7 linked regions of the Homo sapiens genome follow. The protein of the gene in region 3 purifies or fractionates together with the protein of the main gene of each other region. This does not show direct contact. Each region holds a gene or a part of one and is shown on either strand. Other genes may lie near its edges.

What was found.
Region 1: the proteins of B3GNT3 (region 3) and SLC30A5 purify together in Homo sapiens (affinity purification with mass spectrometry; 3 studies listed by BioGRID and IntAct, with this or other methods). This does not show direct contact.
Region 2: the proteins of B3GNT3 (region 3) and PGRMC1 purify together in Homo sapiens (co-immunoprecipitation; 3 studies listed by BioGRID and IntAct, with this or other methods). This does not show direct contact.
Region 4: the proteins of B3GNT3 (region 3) and ITGAV purify together in Homo sapiens (affinity purification with mass spectrometry; one large-scale study listed by BioGRID and IntAct). This does not show direct contact.
Region 5: the proteins of B3GNT3 (region 3) and CLSTN3 purify together in Homo sapiens (affinity purification with mass spectrometry; one large-scale study listed by BioGRID and IntAct). This does not show direct contact.
Region 6: the proteins of B3GNT3 (region 3) and OS9 purify together in Homo sapiens (affinity purification with mass spectrometry; one large-scale study listed by BioGRID and IntAct). This does not show direct contact.
Region 7: the proteins of B3GNT3 (region 3) and TUBB8 purify together in Homo sapiens (affinity purification with mass spectrometry; 2 studies listed by BioGRID and IntAct, with this or other methods). This does not show direct contact.

The regions. Positions count from the first base shown.
Region 1 is NC_000005.10:69,118,014-69,121,513, forward strand, and holds part of SLC30A5 (proton-coupled zinc antiporter SLC30A5), read left to right. Parts: intron 1-485; coding exon 486-615; intron 616-3,500. UniProt on the Homo sapiens protein: Together with SLC30A6 forms a functional proton-coupled zinc ion antiporter mediating zinc entry into the lumen of organelles along the secretory pathway.
Region 2 is NC_000023.11:119,239,285-119,242,125, forward strand, and holds part of PGRMC1 (membrane-associated progesterone receptor component 1), read left to right. Parts: intron 1-1,024; coding exon 1,025-1,180; intron 1,181-2,841. UniProt on the Homo sapiens protein: Component of a progesterone-binding protein complex. Binds progesterone. Has many reported cellular functions (heme homeostasis, interaction with CYPs). Required for the maintenance of uterine histoarchitecture and normal female reproductive lifespan.
Region 3 is NC_000019.10:17,805,138-17,808,637, reverse strand, and holds part of B3GNT3 (N-acetyllactosaminide beta-1,3-N-acetylglucosaminyltransferase 3), read right to left. Parts: intron 881-3,500; 5' UTR 831-880; coding exon 264-830; intron 1-263. UniProt on the Homo sapiens protein: Beta-1,3-N-acetylglucosaminyltransferase involved in the synthesis of poly-N-acetyllactosamine. Has activity for type 2 oligosaccharides.
Region 4 is NC_000002.12:186,596,556-186,600,055, forward strand, and holds part of ITGAV (integrin alpha-V isoform 1 preproprotein), read left to right. Parts: intron 1-3,500.
Region 5 is NC_000012.12:7,156,908-7,159,445, forward strand, and holds the end of CLSTN3 (calsyntenin-3 precursor), read left to right. Parts: intron 1-581; coding exon 582-784; intron 785-1,033; coding exon 1,034-1,174; 3' UTR 1,175-2,038; downstream 2,039-2,538. UniProt on the Homo sapiens protein: Postsynaptic adhesion molecule that binds to presynaptic neurexins to mediate both excitatory and inhibitory synapse formation.
Region 6 is NC_000012.12:57,711,132-57,714,631, reverse strand, and holds part of OS9 (protein OS-9 isoform 1 precursor), read right to left. Parts: intron 1-3,500. UniProt on the Homo sapiens protein: Lectin component of the HRD1 complex, which functions in endoplasmic reticulum (ER) quality control and ER-associated degradation (ERAD).
Region 7 is NC_000010.11:46,497-50,715, reverse strand, and holds TUBB8 (tubulin beta-8 chain), read left to right. Parts: upstream 1-1,419; 5' UTR 1,420-1,477; coding exon 1,478-1,534; intron 1,535-1,803; coding exon 1,804-1,912; intron 1,913-1,990; coding exon 1,991-2,101; intron 2,102-2,257; exon of another isoform or gene 2,258-2,291; intron 2,292-2,433; coding exon of another isoform or gene 2,434-2,601; coding exon 2,602-3,659; 3' UTR 3,660-3,828; downstream 3,829-4,219. UniProt on the Homo sapiens protein: Tubulin is the major constituent of microtubules, a cylinder consisting of laterally associated linear protofilaments composed of alpha- and beta-tubulin heterodimers.

The sequences.
Region 1 (3,500 bases), on a different chromosome or scaffold from region 3:
AAATACAAAAAAAATTAGCCGGGCGTAGTGGCAGGCACCTGTAGTCCCAGCTACTCGGGAGGCTGAAGCAGGAGAATGGTGTGAACCCAGGAGGCGGAGCTTTCAGTGAGCCAAGATCGTGCCACTGCACTCCAGCCTGGGTGACAGAGCAAGACTCTGTCTCAAAAAAAAAAAAAAAAGAGAGTAAAGAAGGACTTTGATGAATATATAACATTTTAACAAATGTATATATTCGTTAAAATGTTATATATTCATATATAACGTATATATATTCATATATAACGTGTATATATATGTGTATATATATATATGTATATATATATGAAGGACCTTCCAGGCATTAATATGATATTTAAAATATTGCTAATTTTCTATTATTAATTACTTAGTAGTATGAAAATTTGGACTTGTTTCCTCATTTATAAAGTTTATACTTTAAAAATATTTGTCCTTTTCCTTTTCTGAAAAATGTTCTATGTTTTTAGGTACGGCCGAATAGAAATTCTGTCTGGATTTATTAATGGACTTTTTCTAATAGTAATAGCGTTTTTTGTGTTTATGGAGTCAGTGGCTAGATTGATTGATCCTCCAGAATTAGACACTCACATGTTAACAGTAAGTCTTTTTATTTTCCTATTTGGATTTCTAGTCATACTTACATAGTTTTTTCTATCCTAAAGTTTAATTGTTTGCAGTTATTGCTCTAAGAAGGTTTTATTTTTTACTTATATCAACATAACTTCCTATCTTGCTGTTTACATTTATACTGCTCCCTCTTAGAAATTCTCTTTTTTTTTTTTTTTTTTTTTGAGACAGAGTCTCTGTTTTCCAGGCTGGAGTGCAGTGGCATGATCTCAGCTCACTGCAGCCTCCACCTCTCAGGCTCAAGCGATTCTCGTGCCTCAGCCTCCTGAGTAGCTGGGATTACAGGCATGTGCCACCACCCCCTGCTAAATTTTGTATATTTTGTATAGATAGAGTTTCGCCATGTTGGCCAGGCTGGTCTCGAACTACTGACCTCAAGCAATCCTCCCACCTTGGCATCCCAAAGTGCTGGGATTACAGGCATGAGCCACTGTGCCCGGCCAGCTATAGCAACTTTTAATGTTCTCCCTGTACCACCAAAGCTTTACATGTGCTGTTTCTTGTAGTTGGCATGTCCTTTCCTTACTTCTGCCCTTCAGCCTCCATCAAGATTTTGCTTATGTGAAATACTTTTTTTCTTTTCTTTTTTTCTTTTTTTTCAAGCAATTCTCCTGTCTCAGCTTCCCGAGTAGCTGGGACTACAGGCGCCTGCCACCACGCCTGCCTAATTTTTGGAAATACTTTCTTTTAATCCCCCTCTTCTCTCCACAAAGTTTGTTAGATTCCTTTTCTCAGTATTCTCATTATGTTTTGTGCATTCTTCTTTTAGCAACATTGAGTTGCAGTTGTTTAATTTGTCATTCTTCCACAATTAAGATATGTAAGTATCTTCAGGACCTGAATTACATATTATTAACTCTTAAGTTCAGTTCTAGCACCTGGCTTGTCGTAGGAAATCAGTTGTTAAATGACAAAAAGCAGCTCTGGCTCTTGCTGGTGGAAGCATACATGAGTAAAATGTTTCTATAATACAGTTTGGAAAAATAGACTTTTTTGGATTTTTTAGTGCCTGTATCCTTTGATATTGACTATTTATCATACATAAACATTCACACAAACATATAGAAGTACATGACTCTGGCCGGGTGCAGTGGCTCACGCCTGTAATCCCAGCACTTTGGGAGGCCGAGGTGGTTGGATCACCTGAGGTCAGGAGTTTGAGACCAGTCTGGTCAACATAGTGAAACCCCATCTCTACTAAAAATACAAAAATTAGCCGGGCATGATGGCGCACACCTGTAATCCCAGCTAGTTGGGAGGCTGAGGCAGGAGAATCACTTCAACCACGAGGCAGAGGCTTCAGTGAGCCCAGGTTGCACCAACTGTACTCCAGCCTGGGTGATAGAGAGACTCTGCCTCAAAAAAAAAAAAAAAAAAAAGTAGTACATGATTCATTGTACCCTTATTTATAATAGTGAAAAAATGGAAACAATTCACTGTCCACCAGTGAAAAAAGTAATTAAATAAATTTGTTATCTATATAATAGAATATTACAGAGCTATTGAAAAGAATGAGATATATCTGTATATACTGGCCTGAAAATATTTACGAGATGTACTAGTGAAAAACAAATTGCAGGCCATGCATGGTGGCGGGCGCCTGTAATCCCAGCTGCTTGGGTGGCTGAGGTAGGAGAATTGCTTGAACCTGGGAGGCAGAGGTTGCAATAAGCCGAGATCATGCCACTGCACTCCAGCCTGGTTGACAGAGCAAAACTCTGTCTCAAAATGAAAAAAAAAAAATTGTAAAATAGTATTATGATTACATTGTTGGTTTTAAAGGGTGTTATGTGTATGTATGTTAGTACACAGATGGAAAATACACCATTTTAAGCGTGACTAACCCTTGGTGGTAGAATTATAGGGGACTTTCATCTTCTACATTTTTATTTTCCTGATAAAATACACAATGATGAAGTATTTTTCAGTAGGGGAGAAGGAGTACTTATGAGATGATGGAGTCTCTGTAAGCAGTACTTGGTTTCATTCAAAGTCATTAACCATCTACCAGCTTATAAAGCCTAATGAAATTTTAAAATCTGGAGTCAAATGGTCCGAATCAGGAAGAAGTAAATAACCTCCCTACACATTTAATAAAGTAAATCTCTTACTACTTTTGAAAAGTAATTAAAAGTATTTGTCCTTCTCATATTTATATTTTCCTTTTATAAAACAAATGGATTGCTTTAAATTGTAGATGTAGGCAAATTAACACCCTGAGCTACTACTATTCAAGATCATTTTGTAAGAGCAGATAATCAAGGATAAGTAACTTTGTTTATCCTTTGGAGTATTATTGTGGCACCATTAAATTAAAGTAATTTCATTCACTTTGTTAAGAAAAAAATGAGAGGCCAGGCATAGTGGCTCATGCCTGTAATCCCATAATCCCAACACTTTTGGAGGCCAAGGTGAGAAGATCGCTTGAGCCCAGGAGTTTGAGGACAGCCTGGGCAACATAGACCCTGTCTCTACCAAAGAAAAAAATTTGTTTTTAATTTAAATAAATGCGAGATTACTATTGTATGTTTCCTTTTTATTATACTTGTTTTACTTTGGAAAATTTTACTGTGTTTAAGACATAATAAGACCATATTTGGAATCTGCTCATTAATAAATTATAATTGTTGGCATATAAACTGTTCAAATTTACCTAGCAATATAAAGATTTCAGGTACAGTGTATACTTGCCCTAGTAAGCAGTACTTTCAAACTCTTCAATAAACAAAACAAAACTTTGCATCATTTATTTATACATAAACCATAAACCAAGTACATACCATTCTTAATTGAAATAAGTCCAAATTCCTCTACTTACCAATTCTGCTTGATATTTGAAAGTTAAAATGTTTCTT
Region 2 (2,841 bases), on a different chromosome or scaffold from region 3:
GCATTTAAAAGTTGTAAAATTTGTAAAAAATTTCTGAGTGTATTGAGGTTTCAGGTGAACAGGCCATATTGAAACTTGATCTATTCTCATACTTGGTTCCCTACAAACATTTTAATGTCAGGGCTGCTATTCAATCTGCCTTGGGGGAAACAACACATTGTTTAAAGTACACTGGATTCTCTTCATTTAGTTGTGCAATATTTAAATAAGTCTAAATATCCACTTTGTGTACCCACAGAATGATTCTCTGCTCTCTTAGACAAAAGTTCAGTATAATATCACAAATAATCACATTTTATAGAGTTGTTTTATAGAGTTGTTTTGCAGTATTGATTCAGCCTCTTTTCCATGAAAATTTTAGTATTTTCACAGTCTTCTCAAGCCCACCAAAAAACAGATAATGAAGACTGATCTCTGTGTTATCTATTTATTGACAGTGAAGGTTATGTAATGTGGATAGATTTTTAAACCACCGATACTGTTATAAAATGGTTCTTCTGCAGATGCCATGAGTTAATGTTTAATTGAGCCTTGGAACCAAAGATCTCTATAAGATACCTTTGTTTCATTAAAACATATCAGAATATATTCATAAGGAAATGTGTTTTCATGTACACATCAGTGCTTATTATCTTAAGAAACCATAACTCTCACTGGTGTAGCCCCAAGTGCCTAGAACTGTCAGGCTCCCAGTTCAATGTTCTTGTATGATTCCCTACTACCACTACCCCAAGAGATCACTAACCACGTATGACTTTTTTACTAGCTATTTGGAAACCACAGGAGACTGACGCAAATGTATAGCAGTTTGATTTACTTTTAGTTATTTAAAAGTTAAATGACAACAGGTCTTTCTGTGTCTCCTACATAATGTTCAGAATATCAGCATTACTATGGTTTCCTAATGGAATTTGATATTCAAAAATGGGGCTATGTTGATGAATAGGGAAGCCATTTTCTGTGTATAAATCACAGAGAAATTGACTGTCTAATAAAGAATTGATCTTTGGTTTTGTTTTTGAAGAGGGGCCGTATGGGGTCTTTGCTGGAAGAGATGCATCCAGGGGCCTTGCCACATTTTGCCTGGATAAGGAAGCACTGAAGGATGAGTACGATGACCTTTCTGACCTCACTGCTGCCCAGCAGGAGACTCTGAGTGACTGGGAGTCTCAGTTCACTTGTAAGCATTTTTAAAATTGTGTCTGGGTCAAATTTCTACCAGTAATGGGGATTCGTGGCAGGACAATAGTTATTACTAAGCAGCCTGAAACTTGGGTGCATTTTGATAGGCTCCTTAATCTTGGACGCATCAAGTTCATGGCTTGAAGTAATTGTAGCAGTGCTGAGTCACTTGCTATGATTGCATACCAATTTTTAGCCAGTTCTCTATGGAAACTTGGGTTTCTGGTTTTGATTTTAAAATTTTTGAGAGATTTGCTAGATTCCAAATGAGGATTTGGTGCTTGGTGTGTCAGGGAAAGGACAGTGTCCATCTTGGCTACAGAAAGGGATTTTCATAAGCCCTCTCTTGTAGAGCTTGCCGTTTAAAAGCAGCCCACATCTCTGTTGAAGAATGGGAGACTTGTATTCTGTGAAACAGCTTCTCTTTGAATCTAATTGAACCTAACTATAGGCCTCATCTACAAATGATGCTTATAATGTGCCCAGCAGCAATGGTGTCTGCATTTTTAAAAAGAAAGTAAAAAGGAGATGCTTGTTTCTGGCTTATGCTATGGGCTGAGGTCTTTGGGGAGAAATAGGAATGAGGGGTTAAGTTCAGATTTTGAGAATTCAGGAATTGGTTTCTGTCAAATCTAACTGTTTAATTGTCACTCTAGCAATATTTCACTGCCAAGAATTTGAATAAGAGTCTTTCCCAGCTTTTATGAAACAGTATATAAAGACCATGAGCATTATTTGAAGATTTTTCATTTAAAATGTAGTTTTCTATGTGTGTTCTCTATAATCAGTTAAATATTACATGTTCTCTTGGCTATATCCAACCATTTTCTTTGAAAATAATGCTGACTTCAGAGAGAGTTCTGGATTAATAATTAGCCAGATGTGTCTCTGCCTTTGAGTTTTGGTCTCAAGCAGGCTACATATAACTTCCAAGTCTAGAGGCAAGTTTTTATACTTTGGAAAACATAGTTCAGTTACCTAATAGAGTCCCTAATTTTTGGCATCATAAGGATGCCTTTGTAATTAGTTTTCTATATGAAACCAGTGAATTGTAGTGTCTAACTTACAAAGCTCTATTTTCTAGGGCTTGCCTTCATCAGTGGGAGAAAAAGTGTGATTTTTTTTTTCCACTTTAAGGCTAGCCCCAGATGCTGTTGTGACACCTCAGCTACACTTAAAGTTGGTGTGGATTCCCCTTAAGGCAGGTTTCCCAGGAGCCACCTGGCTTTTATTTGTCTCACACAGTTCCAATTGTTCCCAACGGTTATTTCACACAAAAGCAGCTTTAGTTACCTGGTTAGACAGGTTGGTTACTCCTCTAATTCCTACTCATATTCAGGAAGAGGAGACTCTTGGCTTTGGACATTCAGATGATCGACCCTGCATTAGTTTGGCTACAGTGATGAGGTGGTTTGCTGATGCCATCTCTTCTCAAGTCTTTTGCATTCTGGTTTGCACCCTTACATCTGTTTTCTCCAACACCTCCAGTCATCTCCTGGCTCCTTTACCACTTCCTTTAACCACCCATAGGTTTTTCTCTGTGCTGGGAAAAACGTTCTGTCTCTTGCTCTCCTCTTCATCTATGAGACTATTATTCCTTCCTTTCACTGTCAAACAAACTTCTTACAAGTTTTTATTCCTAACCACTACTTCATTTCC
Region 3 (3,500 bases):
AGTAAGAGGCAGAGCTTGGATTCGAATCCGCATCATCAGGCTTGAGCTCTGTGCTAGTAACCTAGCTCCTCTGCCCTTCCCCCTAGCCTCTCCTAGAAGAAGACCATTTTGGGTCTCCACGAGGCTGGTGAGGACAGCAGAGGGGCAGAATGGGCTGTGATGGACTGACGAGGACTTCTGGTCCCCTGGGTCCCTCAGGAGTGGGTGGTAATTTGGACAAGAAGGACAGGTGGCCCCGATCAGGTGACCCCAGTCCAGCGCACCTGCTTGAGCGTGAGGTTGAAGAAGGAGTCGTGGAAGTCCCACTGCAGGATGTCTCCGTGAGTCTGTGCCTCCAGCTCCAGCAGCCGGTTGACCTTGCGGGCCTCGTGCGGGTTGGAGGCTGTGCCCACCAGGAAGAGGAGGCGCAGCTGCAAACCCCGTACCTTGCGCTCGCGGCCCCACGTGCGCCGCAGCAGCTCGCGGCGCACATAGTTGCTAGGGGAGGACTTGATCACCAGCAGCAGGAAGACCGGCTGCGCGCACTTAGAGGGGGGCACGTCCTGCAGCAGGGGAAAGTGGCGGCAGTGTCTGTACAGGAGGAAGTTCTGAACGTGCTGCGGCTGCGTGGCGAAGTCCGGGTGGGTGACCATAGAGGTGTTGGCATGGCACGGGGCCGGGGCTGGGCGGGTGGGTGGAGTGGGCCAGGCCAGGGCCTCGGGGATCGCCGGTGGCTGCTCCTGGACCTTGCAGGTGGGTGGTGACACTAGCAGACTGAAGAGGAGGAGGGTGAAAGCGCCGATGGCCAGAATGAGGGTGGCATTGGGCCGCCGGTGCCGGAGATACTTCATCCTGGCCAGCCAGGGTCTGGGGTCGGCCTGAGGAGCCTCCTGGGCGGCTCCTGTGGAAAACAAAACTCACTGAACACTCGCCATGAGCAAAGCGCTTTTCCTGTGGCCCCCAACATCTGGTTGCACCTGTACAGTTGCTCAGGTTGGCAAAATATTGAAATTCACCCCCCACTTAACTCCTCCACCCCTTGCAAGACCCATTTCAAAGCACTCCAACCCCTGTTGGCTCTGACAGGTGCCCTGGCCCTCCCTGCTGGGGATTAATTTTTTAAATTTTTTAATTTTGTTTTTTTTTTTTGAGACAGCGTCTCTCTCTCTCTCTCTCTCTTGTTCTGTTGCCCAGGCTGGAGTGCAGTGGTGTAATTTCCGCTTACTGCAGCCTCCACCTCATGGGTTCAAGCGATCCTCCTGCCTCAGCCTCCTGAGTAGCTGGGATTACAGGTGTGAGCCACCATGCCTGGCTAATTTTTTTGTATTTTTAGTAGAGACGGGGTTTTACCATGTTGGCCAGGCTGGTCTTGAACTCCTGACCTCAAGTGATCCACCTGCCTCGGCCTCCCAAAGGGCTGGGATGACAGGCATGAGTCACTGTGCCCTGCCTTTCTGTGTGAAGTCTTAGTTTCCTTATTAGGACATGGGGGTGCTGAGGTTCCTGCTCCAATACACACACACACACACACACACACACACACACACTGGGGCCACTGCTCCCTGACTGCAAAAGGGCTTGATGCATATTAGCTGTGTGGTGACCGCCTCAGTGACCATGAGTCCACCATCCTGGCTACCTTGATTCCCCAGCTATTCCCACTTACAGCATGGAGCAGTATCAGAACCCAGGACTTTTTTTTTTTTTTTTTTTTCTTGAGATGGAGTTGCCCAGGCTGGAATACAGTGGCACAATCTCGGCTCACTTCAACCTCCGCCTCCTGCATACGAGCGATCCTCCTGCCTCATCTTTCAGAGTAGCTGGGACTACAGGCACGCGCCACCACGCCCAGTTAATTTTTGTATTTTTAGGAGAGACAAGGTTTCACCGTGTTGGCCAGGATGGTCTCGATCTCCTGACCTCATGATCTGCCCACCTTAGCCTTCCAAAGTGCTGGGATTACAGGCATGAGCCACCGTCCCCAGCCGGAACCCAGAACTTTGATGGGTGCAGTATGCCCATCTCATACGTCCCTCAACTCGGGGTCACTGGGAGACTCCCTTCCAACACCTCAGGGCCTCCCAGAATCTGTCACAAGGGACTGCGTCATGGATGGCACCAAACATCCCTCAAAGAGAACCTGGCCAACTCTCGGCCACCTGGGGCACAGACAGGTGAATATCCGTGAACGTGCATGAGTCCAATCCTGTTAACTGTCACAGTGCTCATCAGCCCTAGAGTGTTAACTGAGCACCTACTGTATGCTAGATGCTGGGGATACAGCTGTGACCAAGCCAGCCCTGCCCTCAATATAACAATAAGTAGAACAGCTTGGGCAGCATGGTGAAACCCCGTCTCTACAAAAAACACAAAAATTAGGCTGGGCGCAGTGGCTCACACCCATAATCCCAACACTTTAGGAAGCCAAGGCAGGTGGATTACTTGAGGTCAGGAGTTCAACAGCAGCCTGGCCAACATGGGGAAACCCACTCTCTACAAAAAAAAAAAAAAGAAAATACAAAAATTAGCCAGGCATGGTGATGGGTGCCTGTAGTCCCAACTACTCGGGAGGCTGAGGCAGGAAAATCACTTGAACCCAGGAGGTGGAGGCTGCAGTGAGCTATGATCACACCATTGCACTCCAGCCTGGATGACAGAGAAAGACTCTGTCTCAAAACAAAACAAAACAAAAAATTAGCAGGCTGTGGTAGCATGTGCTTGAGGTCTCAGTTACTTGGGAGGCTGAGGTGGGAGGACCACCTGAGCCCAGGAGTTCAAGGCTGCAGTGAGCTATGATCACACCACTGCACTCCAGCCTGGGCAACAGAGCAAGATGCTGTCTCAAAAAAAAAAATTGTAAATGATACTAACAATTAGTGACAGCCATACTAATTGTTACTGAGGCAGGTCCACAGGGGACCTGAGCAACCTAGGATCAGGGAGGTCCTGAAGGATGATGGGAATTCACTTGAGCAGACTGTGGGGAAGGGCATTCCAGACAGAGTGGAGCATGTGCAAAGGCCCTGAGATGGATACAAATTTAGGGTGCTGGTGGCAGAGCGAGGAGGCTGACGTGGTTGGGACAGGGCGAGAGAAAGGAGGTGATGGTGGAGTTATGGGACCCTGCTAGGGTACAAGAATAGAATGGGCACGCCAGAAAGAATGTCTTATGTTTCCTGTGAGAAGCAATGAGGAGCCATGGAGGGTCTATGAGCAGGGGAGGGATCAGATTGATTTATGCCTTTAAGAAGTCCCCTGTGGGCTGGGCAAGGTGGCTCAGGCCTATAATCCCAGCACTCTGGGAGGCTGAGGTAGGAGGATCGCTTGAGCTTAGGAGTTTGAGACCAGCCTGGGCAACATGGTGAAACCCCATCTCTACCCAAAATACAAAAGTTAGCCGGCGTGATGATGCATACTTGTAGTCCTAGCTATGCGGGAGGTTGAGGTGGGAGGATTGCCTGACCCCAGGAGTTTGAGGCTGCAGTGAGCTATAATCACACCACTCCAGCCTGGGCAACAGA
Region 4 (3,500 bases), on a different chromosome or scaffold from region 3:
TTCTGGCTAACTTTTGTATTTTTAGTAGAGATGGGGTTTCACCATGTTGGCCAGGCTGGTTTTGAACCCCTGACCTTAAGTGATCCTCCTGCCTTGGCCTCCCAAAGTGCTAGGATTACAGGCATGAGCCACCGTGCCTGGCCTGTGTTGCTTTTTATTCCTTAATTTTTTTATATAGCATCTTTTATCACCTTGTACCCAGTTTTCTATGCAAGTATTTCTTTTTCACTACACAGCTTCCTCGTAAGACTTTAACATATGTCTAAGGTCATTTTACTTTCTCTATCTCTTCATTGTTCTCTTTAAAAAACTTAAATATCTTAATGATAACTTTAATATCGAGATGGCATTTTGGATGAAAAACTTCATCAGCTTTTTTCCCTCACAAATTTAGCATGTAGATATTGACACATTCCTTTTATATTATTCTGCCATTTCTGTAGCATTTCACCAGTATGCAAGTCTGCACATGAAGGTATGCTTAGGAAAACTTAATGAACATCCATTTGTACACCTGATTACCATCATTTCATGCCTATAATGTGCAGATAGCCTGATGAAAAGCAACAGGCTTGTTCCTGGTATTATTCAAGGAACTCATGCTATGTGCTGCCAATAGAGTGGTGTTTTCATTCAGAGAATGCTCCTACTGGGCTCTTTTTCTCTGTCTTTGTTGAAGGCCTTCTCCTAATAACTTCCGAGCTCTCTCTGTCTTATAGTGCCAAGTAAAGAAAGTATCTGAAACCCAAAATTAAGTAGAGATGTTACACAAGGAAATTGTTTTAAGGGTAATTTAAATAATTGGATGTTTAATAGAGGATGCTTTCTGCATTCTTGAGGGGTTCAGACGTAGTGGAAATGACTTATTTATATATGGCTACTTTAAGATTGAGACATAGCTATTGAATTTACTTTGTTACTCCACTGTCCATTTAAACTTTTCTTGAGTTCTTATAATGTGGCAGGTGCAAAAGATGAATTAGAGTACCCTACATTCAAAGAAGCAATTTATCATAAGGTAGGCAGAATAGTTTTGACCAAAAAGTTATAAAATATATTGTAAGACAGGGGTCCCCAACCCTCGGGCCATGGACCAGTACCAGTCCATAGCCTGTTAGGGACCATGCTGCACATCAGGAAGTGAGCAGCAGGAGAGTGAGCATTACCACCTGAGCTCTGCCTCCTGTCAGATCAGTGGTGGCATTAGATTCTCATAGGAGCAAACCCTATTGTGTGAACCCTGCTGTGAAGTGTGCATGCAAGGGATCTAGGTTACATGCTTCTTATGAGAACCTAATACCTGGTGATCCGAGTTGGACAGTTTCATCCCGAAAGCATCCCCCTCTATGTCCAGGGAAGGAAAGGTTGGGGACCACTGCTGTGAGCTACTATTTGAAGACAACCCAGAAGTGATTTTTGCTTGTAGGTTTCCAGGCAAAGCTTGAGAACCAGTTCTCCTATCCTGATGTAGAACCTGGTATGATCTACAACACTAAGAACGTGTACATACCTGTGCTTGTATTACTCTCATTAGGACTACTGTGGCAATGTCCCAAGCAAGCACTATTCAAGATATTGACCCTCAAAAGCAAACTTACCTGAACTGTTCTTTTGTTCTAGTATGCACTCAAAAATCATTTAATTCTGATGAAAAGGGGTAGTTGTGTGATTTTGGGGTCAAATTTTAGACCCGTAGAAAAAAAATTGTATATGTAATAAATTTACATATTATAATTTATACACACACACACACACACACACACACACACACACAGAGTTTCACTGTGTTAACCAACTCTGCTCTAGAAAAAGAACCGATGGGGTTTTGATGACGAGCTGCTCTCTTAGTTATGGGAGGTGGGGACTCTCTTACTCATAGCATTTTTTTTTTTTTTTTTTTGAGACAGAGTTTTCCTCTGTTGCCCAGGCTGGACTGCAGTGGCGCAATCTTGGCTCACTGCAATCTCCACCTCCCAGGTTCAAGTGATTCTCCTGCCTCAGCCTCCCGAGTAGCTGGGATTACAGGCTCATGCCACCACGCCTGGCTAATTTTTATATTTTTAGTAGAGATGGGGTTTTGCCATGTTGGTCTCAAACTCCTGACCTCAAGTGATCTGTCTGCCTCAGCCGCCCAAAGTGTTGGGATTGCAGGCATGAGCCACTGTGCCCAACCTCTTTTTTTCTTATGAAAGACTTTTGCTGAATGAAAACTAAGTTCATTTTCTACCCAGAATCATTTTGCCGTGATGGGAGAGAGCCAACATTGGTGTTTTACTGATGCCAGATATGACTGCATGGAGCTCTATTAAATAGGGCGTGGTTTGGTTGGGAGTTACGTCTTTATTTTGAATTTGTGGATTTTTAAGATAAGTGTCAGAAAGCAGGATTCTTTGTAACCCTGCAATTCGTACAGCCAGCTTTTGTCTACTGTAGATGAGATTTGGCAGCTACTACCCAGAATAAGAAATTGATTTTAAAAGTTCAAGTGAATGCATTCCATATTTAAGATGTACATTCGTTCTAATTTCACAAAAAGGTGAAAAGCAATTGTAAATGTTTCCTTTGCCAGAATAATTTAAGTGACTTAGTATTTAATGAAACAAAATGATTATGGTGATAGCATTTTAGGACTGTTTTTGTCTGCCTGTATCCTGCTTTATTTCCTCCTATATTTCAATCAGTTTCTTGAGATTAAAGACAAAAATCTTTTTTACTTTATCTTCTTTCTCTTCTTGACTCCTAAATGTTGTTGTCCCTGAGAACTCACTCATTGCCCCTCCTCTTTCGACGCTTCCCCTGGCTGAATAACCCCAACTGTGTTCTGATACAGCATACTGTCTCAGGCAGGGCTTCAGACTACAACTGGATGACTCACAGATATCTCAAACAAACATATTAATAATTGAATTCATGGTTTTTCTGTAAATACTAATTTTATTTTATTTCTTGAGACAGGGACTCATTGTTTCACCCAGGCTGTTTGCTTACTTTGTAGCACTTGTAATCACAGCTCACTGCAGCCTCAACCTCCTGGGCTCAAGCCATCCTCCTGTCTCAGGACCCCAGCTCCACCCCCAAAGTTGGGACCACAGGCGCATGCCACCACACCCAGTGAATTGTTTTATTCTTTGTAGAGATGGGGGTCTTACTATGTTGCCTAGGCTAGTCTTGAACTCCTGTAAGTACTTAATCTGCCTTCTGCTTCTCTGCTCTCTAGGCTTTTCTCCCATCAATGCACTCAAGAAGGAAATCTAGGTGGCATTCTTGAATGTCTTTTCTCTCATATTCAGGCCTCCAGCGATTGCTGTTGTACTCCAGATGTTTTTTTCCATCTGTCACCTATCTTTCCACCCACCCTCTTACTGCAGATCACACTCACCTGCTCCCTGAGCTGCGGCCAGTCCTTTGCTTTCCTTGTTCCATTTTTTTCTCCCTCTCCCTTAATGCTTTCCCCATAGGGCATAACATTTAGTTTTCTTTAGTAGATGATTTCATTCTTC
Region 5 (2,538 bases), on a different chromosome or scaffold from region 3:
TCACGGAGTGAGCTCAGTCCAGGTGGGTAAGGGAAGGGGCTGCTCTGTGCCCCTTGGACTTGTCCCCAGCCTCAGGTGCTAGTGCCCTCTTCCTGCAGCCAGCCCAGGCCTGGAGCCTGCATCTCCTCCTGCTCAGCCAAGCCCGTGTGGGGGCCCCTCCTCTCCCTCACTGGGCACTGGCACCTCTTTCCTAGGCTGAGTGGTCTCTGGGGAAGGCACAGGTGGAATGACAGGGGCAGATTCCAGTCCTTGCCCTCTGTCCTCTGCGAATAGGGCTGTTCATGACAGTGTTGGGCAGGGAGTCTTTTTCCTCCTCTGCCCTTGCCTCTCTGTACACCTGCCTCCCTCTGTGTTTGTTCCTTTGCCTTGCAGCAGCTCCCTTCCTCCCCTTTCGTCTCCTGCCCTTCCTGGTGGGCTGTTTCTCTTCTGGCTTCTCCAGGTGTTCCTCTCTTCTCGGCCACCGTGTGTTCTGCCCTGGGAGTCCTTCAGCCCGGGCTGCCTCTTTTCCTACCCAGCCCCCTGTCCAAGTGCCCCCAGGTGTGCCTAGTCACGCTCTGCTCACCCCCGCGCTCTCTCTGCAGTGATACCCAGCGCCGCAACCCTCATCATTGTGGTGTGCGTGGGCTTCCTGGTGCTCATGGTCGTCCTGGGCCTGGTGCGCATCCATTCCCTTCACCGCCGCGTCTCAGGGGCCGGCGGGCCTCCAGGGGCCTCCAGTGACCCCAAGGACCCAGACCTCTTCTGGGATGACTCAGCTCTCACCATCATTGTGAACCCCATGGAGGTGAGAGGCCTGGGGAAGCGGGGTTCTGTAGGGTCAAGACTGTGGAGCACACACGGTGAGGACTCCTGAGGAGGGGCAGGCCTGGGTGGAGGCTGTTCGCAGAGCTGCAGTGAGCCGGAGGGAGAGAGGTTCAGGCAGGGAAGGGGGTACACAGGGGTTAAGGGGACCGAGGGAAGTGTGGTCCCTGAAAGAGAGGCTGGGATGTGTGCAGGCCATTGATCCCTTCTCCTCTCTGTTCCTGCCCTCCAGTCCTACCAGAATCGGCAGTCCTGTGTGACGGGGGCTGTTGGGGGCCAGCAGGAGGATGAGGACAGCAGTGACTCGGAGGTGGCCGATTCCCCCAGCAGCGACGAGAGACGCATCATCGAGACCCCCCCACACCGCTACTAAGGCCTACACCTCTCCCCACGCAGAGGGGGAATTCTGCCCTGGTGAAACAGACACTCCAGACATGGGAGAAGGACTTTCTGGGAACACAGAGACCAAGAGGGAGAGAGGCTTCAGAACCAGTCCTCCTTTCATTTCAAAACCCCAGCGGGCCCTCTGGAGTCCGCCCTGCCCCTCCCCCGGCCCCCCATCCCTCACTTCTGGGCTGTCATGCTCCTGGTGTGCCCCTTGCACTGGGGCTGGCTGGGTTGGAAAGTGGGCTGGACTTCAGCTGCCTTTCTACCCCCAATGGCAGCTGCCCCCTTAGCACTCACTGTGTTGGGGAGAGGGTGACGATTGCAATGGCTGGGGCTGGGGCTGGGGGTGGGATTGAAGGAAACCCTCTCCTCTCCCCTTCCCTTCTCTCTCCTGTCCATGGGAAGCTTTTCCCCCTCTGCAGGGCTCCCTCAGCTGGACCATCGTCCCTGCTTCTCTTATGATCGCCCCACCTCATTTCCATTTCAGTCTGGGGACCCCATTTCTCCCTCCTTTCCAACTTCCTTCCTTTCTTGTCCTGTTTCCCTTCCTGCCCTTGCAGTCCTGAGGTCCTGCAGCCCCGGCCCCTCCTCCGTGACCTGGTGTGGCCAGGCTGCGGGGACGGGAGGGGACGTGGGGGCCCCGGGTGTACATATATAATGTATATTTTTTCAATGTTGTCGTGAGTGCAGCCCATGTTCCTGCGTGCAGCTCACGGCCTTGTGTGTATGTGTGTGTGTGTGTGTGTGTGAGGCATCGTCATGTCCTGGGGCAGGGGCGGGGGGTTGGGTGTGGTGAGGGAGGGGACATATCCTAGGGTTTTCAAATAAAACAATCAGAAAAAAAAAAAAAGCTCTGTGAGGCGCCTCCTGACTGCCTGGTCCTGTGTGGGTGTGGTGGAGGCTCTGGGGCCTCAGGGGCTGTTTGGGTCTCTGCACAGAGCTGAAGTGAGGTGGGCAGGGCTGGTGATCTTGGGGGCCTGACCAGGTAAGTCCCCAGGATGCCAGATCACCTGGAAAGTAAGCTGGGGGCAGATGGTTCCCACGCCTCCCTTCCTTCAGCACCCCCTGGAAAAGTACAGAAGATTCAGGGAATGCTATGGACACCTGGGCAGATGCCCAGTGCCTTGCAGGGGTGCTGCCAACCCCGCCCCACAACTTGGAACATTTTGCCTGTGCACATGGGCTCCCTGCTGGGCGGCCCCAGGGAGAAGGCAGGCAACCCTGCTGTTTGTACCAAAGGGATCTGGAGACTGTTCCCAGGCTGACCCTTTCCTGCTAGCCAAGGCTCAGACCCAGGGGATGTCTGCCTGCCTTGCCCATGTCCTTGTGGCTGCCTCACATGGCTGCTTA
Region 6 (3,500 bases), on a different chromosome or scaffold from region 3:
GAAAGCAAGACCTTGTCTCAAAAACAAAAAGTGGGAGCGGTCCTACTTCTGAAATGGCAGCATGAGGGATTTCGCACACTCCACAGGGAAACTCCATTACTGATGAAAATTTAAAAACACAAAGCATGGCTGGGCGCGGTGGCTCACACCTGTAATCCCAGCACTTTGGGAGGCCGAGGCAGGTGGATCACCTGAGGTCAGGAATTCGAGACAAGCCTGACCAACATGGAGAAACCCCATCTCTACTAAAAATACAAAATTAGCCAGCCTTGTGGCACATGCCTGTAATCCCAGCTACTCGGGAGGCTGAGGCAGGAGAATTGCTTGAACCTGGGAGGCCAAGGTTGCGGTGAGCCGAGATCGCACCATTGCACTCCAGCCTGGGCAACAAGAGTGAAACTCTGTCTCAATACAAACAAACAAACAAACATAAAGCATTTAAACTCTTTGGAAATTTTCCTAAGGACATATAACAAATGAAGAAATGTTTACTCAAGAAAATCTACTAAATCTTTTTTTTTTTTTCAGACAGGGTCTCACTGTGTCACCCAGGCTGGAGTGCAGTGGCATGATCACAGCTCACTGAAGCCTCAACCTCCTAGGTCCAAGCAATCTTCCCACTTCAACCTCCCAAGGTAGGACTACAGGTGTGTGCCACCATATCCAACTAATTTTTACAAATTTTTTTGTAGAGACAGGGTCCCGCTATGTTGTCCAGGCTTTCCAGGGCTCAAGCAATCCTCCCACCCAAAGTGCTGGTATTACAGGTGTGAGCCACCATGCCCAGCTACTAAATCTTGAATAGTGAGAATTTGCAGCACTTGAACCATGACATGCTCCCTCAATCTATGCCCCAAACCCCTACCCCACAGCTCAGTTAGACTAAAGCTCCACTCCAGCAGGTAAGCGTAGTTAAAAAAAAAAAAAAAAAAAGTGGGGTGGGGCGGTGGAGGGGGAGGGACTTCCTATTCTCTCAACATCCAGTCATGAGATATGATATATGGTATTTTACCAGGAGGGCCACCAGCTCCAAGATACAGCAACTAAATTCCTGAAAAAGATCAAGGGCTCCCTTCCTCCACTCAGCCCCACCCACAGGGCAGAGGCTTTACCTCAAGTGCAGTGGGACAAAAGTATCGGGGCCCTGATTGCCCTCACGGAAGCTTGCTCAGAGAGTGGAGGTTTCACAAAAGGAGATGCAAACCGAGAGAGCAGAGGTTGTCATCCCTGCCTAGCTCCCTGCTCATAAAGCAGGAATGTCCTTCCAAGTGAAGCAAGCCATTATTCCTGACCCCAACTCCAGAGCAGGGCCTCGGGGATTTTGCCCAGGGGGAGAGGCAGTCCGTAAGAATACAGGGCTCCAAAACATTCTCCAAAGGACCTGACTTAATATGAAACAGAGTATGGGGAAATTCAAGCCTATAGGCACTTCAAAAATGTAGAGATTTTGGCAGGAGGCAATTAAAAGGAGGCTGATTGCTCCATGATAGCAACAGGCTAAACCTTGGGACAGCTAGTTTAACAGAGAGAACCAGGGAAAGGGCAACTGAGAGCCGTCCTGGACTCAGAACAAACCTATATATTGCCCTCAAAAACTAGCCCGACAAAGGGGCCCACAATTAACTGGACTAAACTATGGAACAACTTATGCCCCACATGTCAAAAACAATAAAGCAATTAGTTGGCAATGAATGGAGCCTAACAGCTGGGGGTGATACCAGCAGAGGCAGATGGCTTAACAAATTCATGAAAGAAACAGTCAAAAAGCCTGCTGAAACCACTGTCATCTAGTGTGGCTGTGTGCAGGGCCAAGACCGTGCACTCTGAGAAGAGACACTAGAGGCTTCATGTTGTGAGGGGGAGACTGAATGCAAGTAGTGCAGCCAAGTCACTGAACAAATGAACAAACAAAAGCCATGGGGTGGAGGGCAGGAATTTCTATCTGGAGTTACTACAACATACTATCTAAAATGTCTGATTTTCAACAATTATGAAACATGCAGAAACAGTAAAGTATGAAACATATATAGGAAAATATGCAGGCAACAGAAACCACCTGTGAGAGGGCCCAGATGTTGGATCTCACAAAGAGTTAAAAGTAGCCATTATATTAATAAATATATTCAAAGAATTAAGAATTTAAGTCACACAAAGTGTGTTCTCTGACCATAATGGAATAAAATTAGAAATGAATGAGGAAAAAAATTTGGAAATTCAGAAATATGTAGAAATTAAACAATATACTCATTAAGTAACCAGTGAGTTAAAGGAAAAAAATCAAAAGAAAACTATAAAATACCTCAAAAATGAACGAAAATGAAGACATAACATATCCAAACTTACAGGATGCAGCTGAAGTAGTGCTTAGAGGGAAATTCATAGCTATAAACATCAATTTTTTAAAAACAAAATCTTGACTCCATAATCTACCCTTCTATCTTAAGAAACTAGAAAAAGAAGAACACACTAAACCAAGAGCCAGCAGAGGGAAAGACTACAGACTAGGACAAAAATAAATGAAATAGAGAACAGGAATACCATCCTATGTGTCCAAAGACAGGGAACCACAGATACACCTTTGTAGGGAGTTTATATATGTTTTTAAGTTTCTGTAATAAAAAGTTTAAAAAAGACAATCTTTAAATATCCATAACTTGCACCTGGCAATTATGCTTTTTTTGCTTACTTTCTTTTTCTTCTTTTTTAATAGATGCAGGGTCTTGCTCTGTTGCCCAGGCTGGTCTCAAACTCCTGGGCTCAAGTGATCCTCTCTCCTCAGCCTCCCAAAGTGTTGGGAATATTGGCATTAGCCACTGTGCCCAGCCCAATTATATGTAAGATATATTTACACATGCATATATGTACAATGTAATAATCATTTGTGACAACAAAAGAATTGGGGGTGGAACTATTTCAACCAGTAGAATAATGGTGACAAAATGATGGAACACACAATGGAATTTTATGCAGCTATAAAAACAAAAAAGGGCCAGGCATGGTGGCTCATGCCTATAATCCCAGCACTTTGGGAGGCCAAGGAGGGCAGATCACGAGGTCAAGAGATCAAGGCCATCCTGGTCAACATGGTGAAACTCCATCTCTACTAACAATACAAAAATTAGCTGGGTGTGGTGGCGCACACCTGTAGTCCCAGCTACTCGGGAGGCTGAGGCAGGTGAATCCCTTGAACCCGGGAGGTGGAGGTTGCAGTGAGCAGAGATCGCGCCACTGCACTCCAGCCTGGGTAACAGAGCAAGACTCCGTCTCAAAAAAAAAAAAAAAAAAAAAAAAAAGATATACTGCCATTGAAAGATCTCTCTAAGGTTTATTGTCCAGGGAAATAAAAGCAAGGTATAGAACAGTGTGTTTAATTTACTATATATTGTTTATAAATAAAGGGGAAAGGAAATAAGAATCTCCATTCATAATTGTTTGTAATCACACAAAAAGGCTGGAAGGATACATGCAAAACTAAGACCAGGGTTAACCTGTGGGGCTGG
Region 7 (4,219 bases), on a different chromosome or scaffold from region 3:
CATTTACACTGATTCCAAGTATGATTTTTTAGTGCTTCATGCTTATGCTGCAATTTGGAATGGGTGGGGACTCCTGACCCCCAAGGGCTTTTCCATACAACATCGTTCAGATTTTGAGCTTGTTAGAGTGCTGCTTTGCTGCCAAAAAGTGAGTATAATTAATTGCAGAGGACATCAAAAGAGAGACTGACCATGTAAAAGGAAATGCCCTTGTAGATGCCACAGCCAAGGCCCCTGCACTGAAAGGGCCAATGAAGCTTGTGGGCGTGCTGGTCAGCATACATAGAACTGGGCCAGAATACCCTGAAGAAGAACGAAAATGGGCCAGGGATTGCATTTCAGTCCAGGGCCCCTCGGGCTGAATGATGGTAATAAATTACTAATGCCAAGTACCAATCACAGGAGTATAACTCAGCACTTTCATGATTCTTTTCACCCTAGAAGGGATTCTTTGTTTCTGTTAATGTCTCATTTGTTTATAGGGGTAAATCTTTTCAAGACACTAAAACAGGTGACTCAGCCCTGTGAGCTTTGTGCCTGACATGACTCAAATGGCCAGCAATTTTCTCCTTCTCCAGTTAAACCTGTCCAAAATTGAGGAACCTATCCAGGTGAGAACTGGCCACTCTAATTTACCCGGAAGCCTTTCTGCAGGAGATTCAAATATTTGCTAATGCTTACTGACACCTTCACTGGTTAGATCGAGGCATTCCCCACCCCATCTGAAAAATGTTTACCAGAAGAAATAACTCCTCAGTTTGGGTAATCCAAAAGCCTGCAAAGTGACAATGGCCCATCTTTCACAGCAGGCGTATCCCAAAACCTGTCCTCAGCTTTAAGAATCCAATATGACCTTCACTCTGCTGGAGACCACAGTCCTCTGGAAAGGTGAAAGGGCTAACCCTACTCTAAAGAAGACTCCAGCTAAATCAGAGGCCTGACTGTCTCTAACACCCATAGCTTATTGTGGGTTAGAACTGCTCCAAAGTAAAACGTATAATTGAGTCCTGTTGAGTTCACATGTGGAAGGCCTTTCCTAACCACAGATCTCCTAATAGATGAAAAGACTCATCAATTACAAAAATATGTCATCAATCTAGGACAGGTGCAAAGGCACTCCGTGCATATGGAAACAAGAGTCTTCCCCTCCCACATGGGAGGAAAATTCAGTTTCAGCTCAGCTAGGGATTTAGTCTTACTAAAGACGCGGGAGGAAGTTCTCCAGCGAGCAGCTTTCCCCAACGTGGAAAGGACCACGCAAGGACACCTGAGCTTTCCAACAGATGTTCAGCGCCAGGGGATCCACAGGTGGGTGCACCTGTGTGGAAGTAAAGCTGTTGCTTATTCTGGGAGCCGAATCCGAGGCGGAGGGAGGTGGGCGCGGGGCTATTTAAACGTTGGCGGAGGGCGGGCTGGGTCGCTGCGCGTCTGCTCCTCCTTCTCACGTTTCTCCTGCCGTCCTAATCCCGCCTTGGCCATGAGGGAGATCGTGCTCACGCAGATCGGGCAGTGCGGGAATCAGATCGGCGCCAAGGTTGGCAGCCGGGGCTCTGAGGGCCTAGCCCGGGCCTGCCGGGTGGCCGGGGAAGGTGTTGGCAGTGGCGGGGGCGGTGCCCATGCATTGCGGCCCCTGGGCTCCCTGCCGGGGACGGTGGAACCGGGTGGCTGGCGAGGCGGCCGGGGTGGACCCCAGGGACAGGGCGGCCTAGGGATGGGGGTGCGGATGAGGGTGGGGGTGGGAGAGCGGCTGGGGCGCCTCCCTGACTCAGCCCCGGCCTGTCTGTCTCCTCCCGTCTCTTGCAGTTCTGGGAGGTGATCTCTGATGAACATGCCATCGACTCCGCTGGCACCTACCACGGGGACAGCCACCTGCAGCTGGAGCGCATCAACGTGTACTACAACGAGGCCAGCGGTGAGACCCCCGTCCTTCCCCCACCGCCCTCCTGGGAACGCGGCCCTCCCCTCGCTCATGCCCTCCCGCCCCACGCAGGTGGCAGGTACGTGCCCCGCGCTGTGCTCGTGGATCTGGAGCCGGGCACCATGGACTCTGTGCGCTCGGGGCCCTTCGGGCAGGTCTTCAGGCCAGACAACTTCATCTTCGGTGAGCTGCGGGCGAGGACTGGGGTGCGGCTCCTTAGCCAGGGCAGCTCAAAATCCAGGAGTGTGCTAAGGTCATCCTCTGGGAACTGTGGAGCTAGGGCCCCTGAACACCCTCCTATCCTCCGAGTCGAGTCGCTCAATCTGCCTCTCCTAAATGGGCTTCGGGAGGAAGGCCCTGGTGTCTCCTCAAGGTGAGGAGTTACTGATGTAAACTCCCTGCAAGAACCTGAGCTGGGGCCGTGGCTACTGCCTTTCCTGAGAATGGGCAGGAGCCACCTGCAGCGAGGTCTGTGAACCCGTCTCAGGTTTGACTCCTGTCTTAATTCCTAACAGGGGAAGCTGCTGTCCTGTAACTCTGGGGGAGGGGGTTTCATCTGCTCCACCTGCAGGGCGAACGGTGCTCTCACCTCACGTGTGACGCTTGGCTCTTTCTGCATTATGGTGGTGACCACTGATGACCGTATACCTGGCCGTCGAGTGACCGGCTGTGCTGTCTTACAGGTCAGTGTGGGGCCGGAAACAACTGGGCCAAGGGACACTACACCGAAGGCGCGGAGCTGATGGAGTCAGTGATGGACGTTGTCAGAAAGGAGGCTGAGAGCTGTGACTGCCTGCAGGGTTTCCAGCTGACCCACTCCCTGGGTGGGGGGACTGGGTCTGGGATGGGTACCCTTCTGCTCAGTAAGATCCGGGAGGAGTACCCAGACAGGATCATAAACACATTCAGCATCCTGCCCTCGCCCAAGGTGTCGGACACCGTGGTGGAGCCCTACAACGCCACCCTCTCAGTCCACCAGCTCATAGAAAACGCAGATGAGACCTTTTGCATAGATAACGAAGCTCTGTATGACATATGTTCCAAGACCCTAAAACTGCCCACACCCACCTATGGTGACCTGAACCACCTGGTGTCTGCTACCATGAGTGGGGTCACCACGTGCCTGCGCTTCCCGGGCCAGCTGAATGCTGACCTGCGGAAGCTGGCCGTGAACATGGTCCCGTTTCCCCGGCTGCATTTCTTCATGCCCGGCTTTGCCCCACTGACCAGCCGGGGCAGCCAGCAGTACCGGGCCTTGACTGTGGCTGAGCTTACCCAGCAGATGTTTGATGCTAAGAACATGATGGCTGCCTGTGACCCCCGTCACGGCCGCTACCTAACGGCGGCTGCCATTTTCAGGGGTCGCATGCCCATGAGGGAGGTGGATGAACAAATGTTCAACATTCAAGATAAGAACAGCAGTTACTTTGCTGACTGGCTCCCCAACAACGTAAAAACAGCCGTCTGTGACATCCCACCCCGGGGGCTAAAAATGTCAGCCACCTTCATTGGGAATAATACGGCCATCCAGGAACTCTTCAAGCGTGTCTCAGAGCAGTTTACAGCAATGTTCAGGCGCAAGGCCTTCCTCCACTGGTACACGGGCGAGGGCATGGATGAGATGGAATTCACCGAGGCCGAGAGCAACATGAACGACCTGGTGTCTGAATATCAGCAATATCAGGATGCCACGGCCGAGGAGGAGGAGGATGAGGAGTATGCCGAGGAGGAGGTGGCCTAGAACTCTCCTTTTCTAGGTAAAGGGGGGAAGCAGTGTGGATTCTTTACTGTGTTCTGACAGCCATGTGTCACTATACGCTTGTTAATTTGTGTCTTCACATCTCCTGCTGCGTTTTAAAGCATTTTTATAGTATGCGGTTTTGACTAATAAAGTATTCTCACAGCATCTGGTTTTGCCTCCATCTTCTTTCTATGGGCCCTCTGGCTACTGCTGCCAGATGCGCATAGTTGTCCTGCAAGGCGGAAGCTGTCTGGGTTCATCACATGCCCAGGAACAAGCATTCCAGTGGCTCCAGGAGGGGTCGGTATGGGCTGTGGACATGGCAGGCAGGCTTCACATGAACTTGGGGATGCCCTGGGCCTTGGGCAGTGACGTGGTGGAAAACCTGTTGCTGAAGGCAAGCCTTGGCTTATCCCATATACCAAACTTCTAGGGGACCAGCTGGCCATGTTTCTGGAACGTTAAAAGGGGTCAGTGACCCTGGTGGACAATGTCCCCAGAGTCCCATCTCAGGGTAGGAATGTGGTCAGAGCTGGCTCTGAACCAGCAATGAAGGGTGG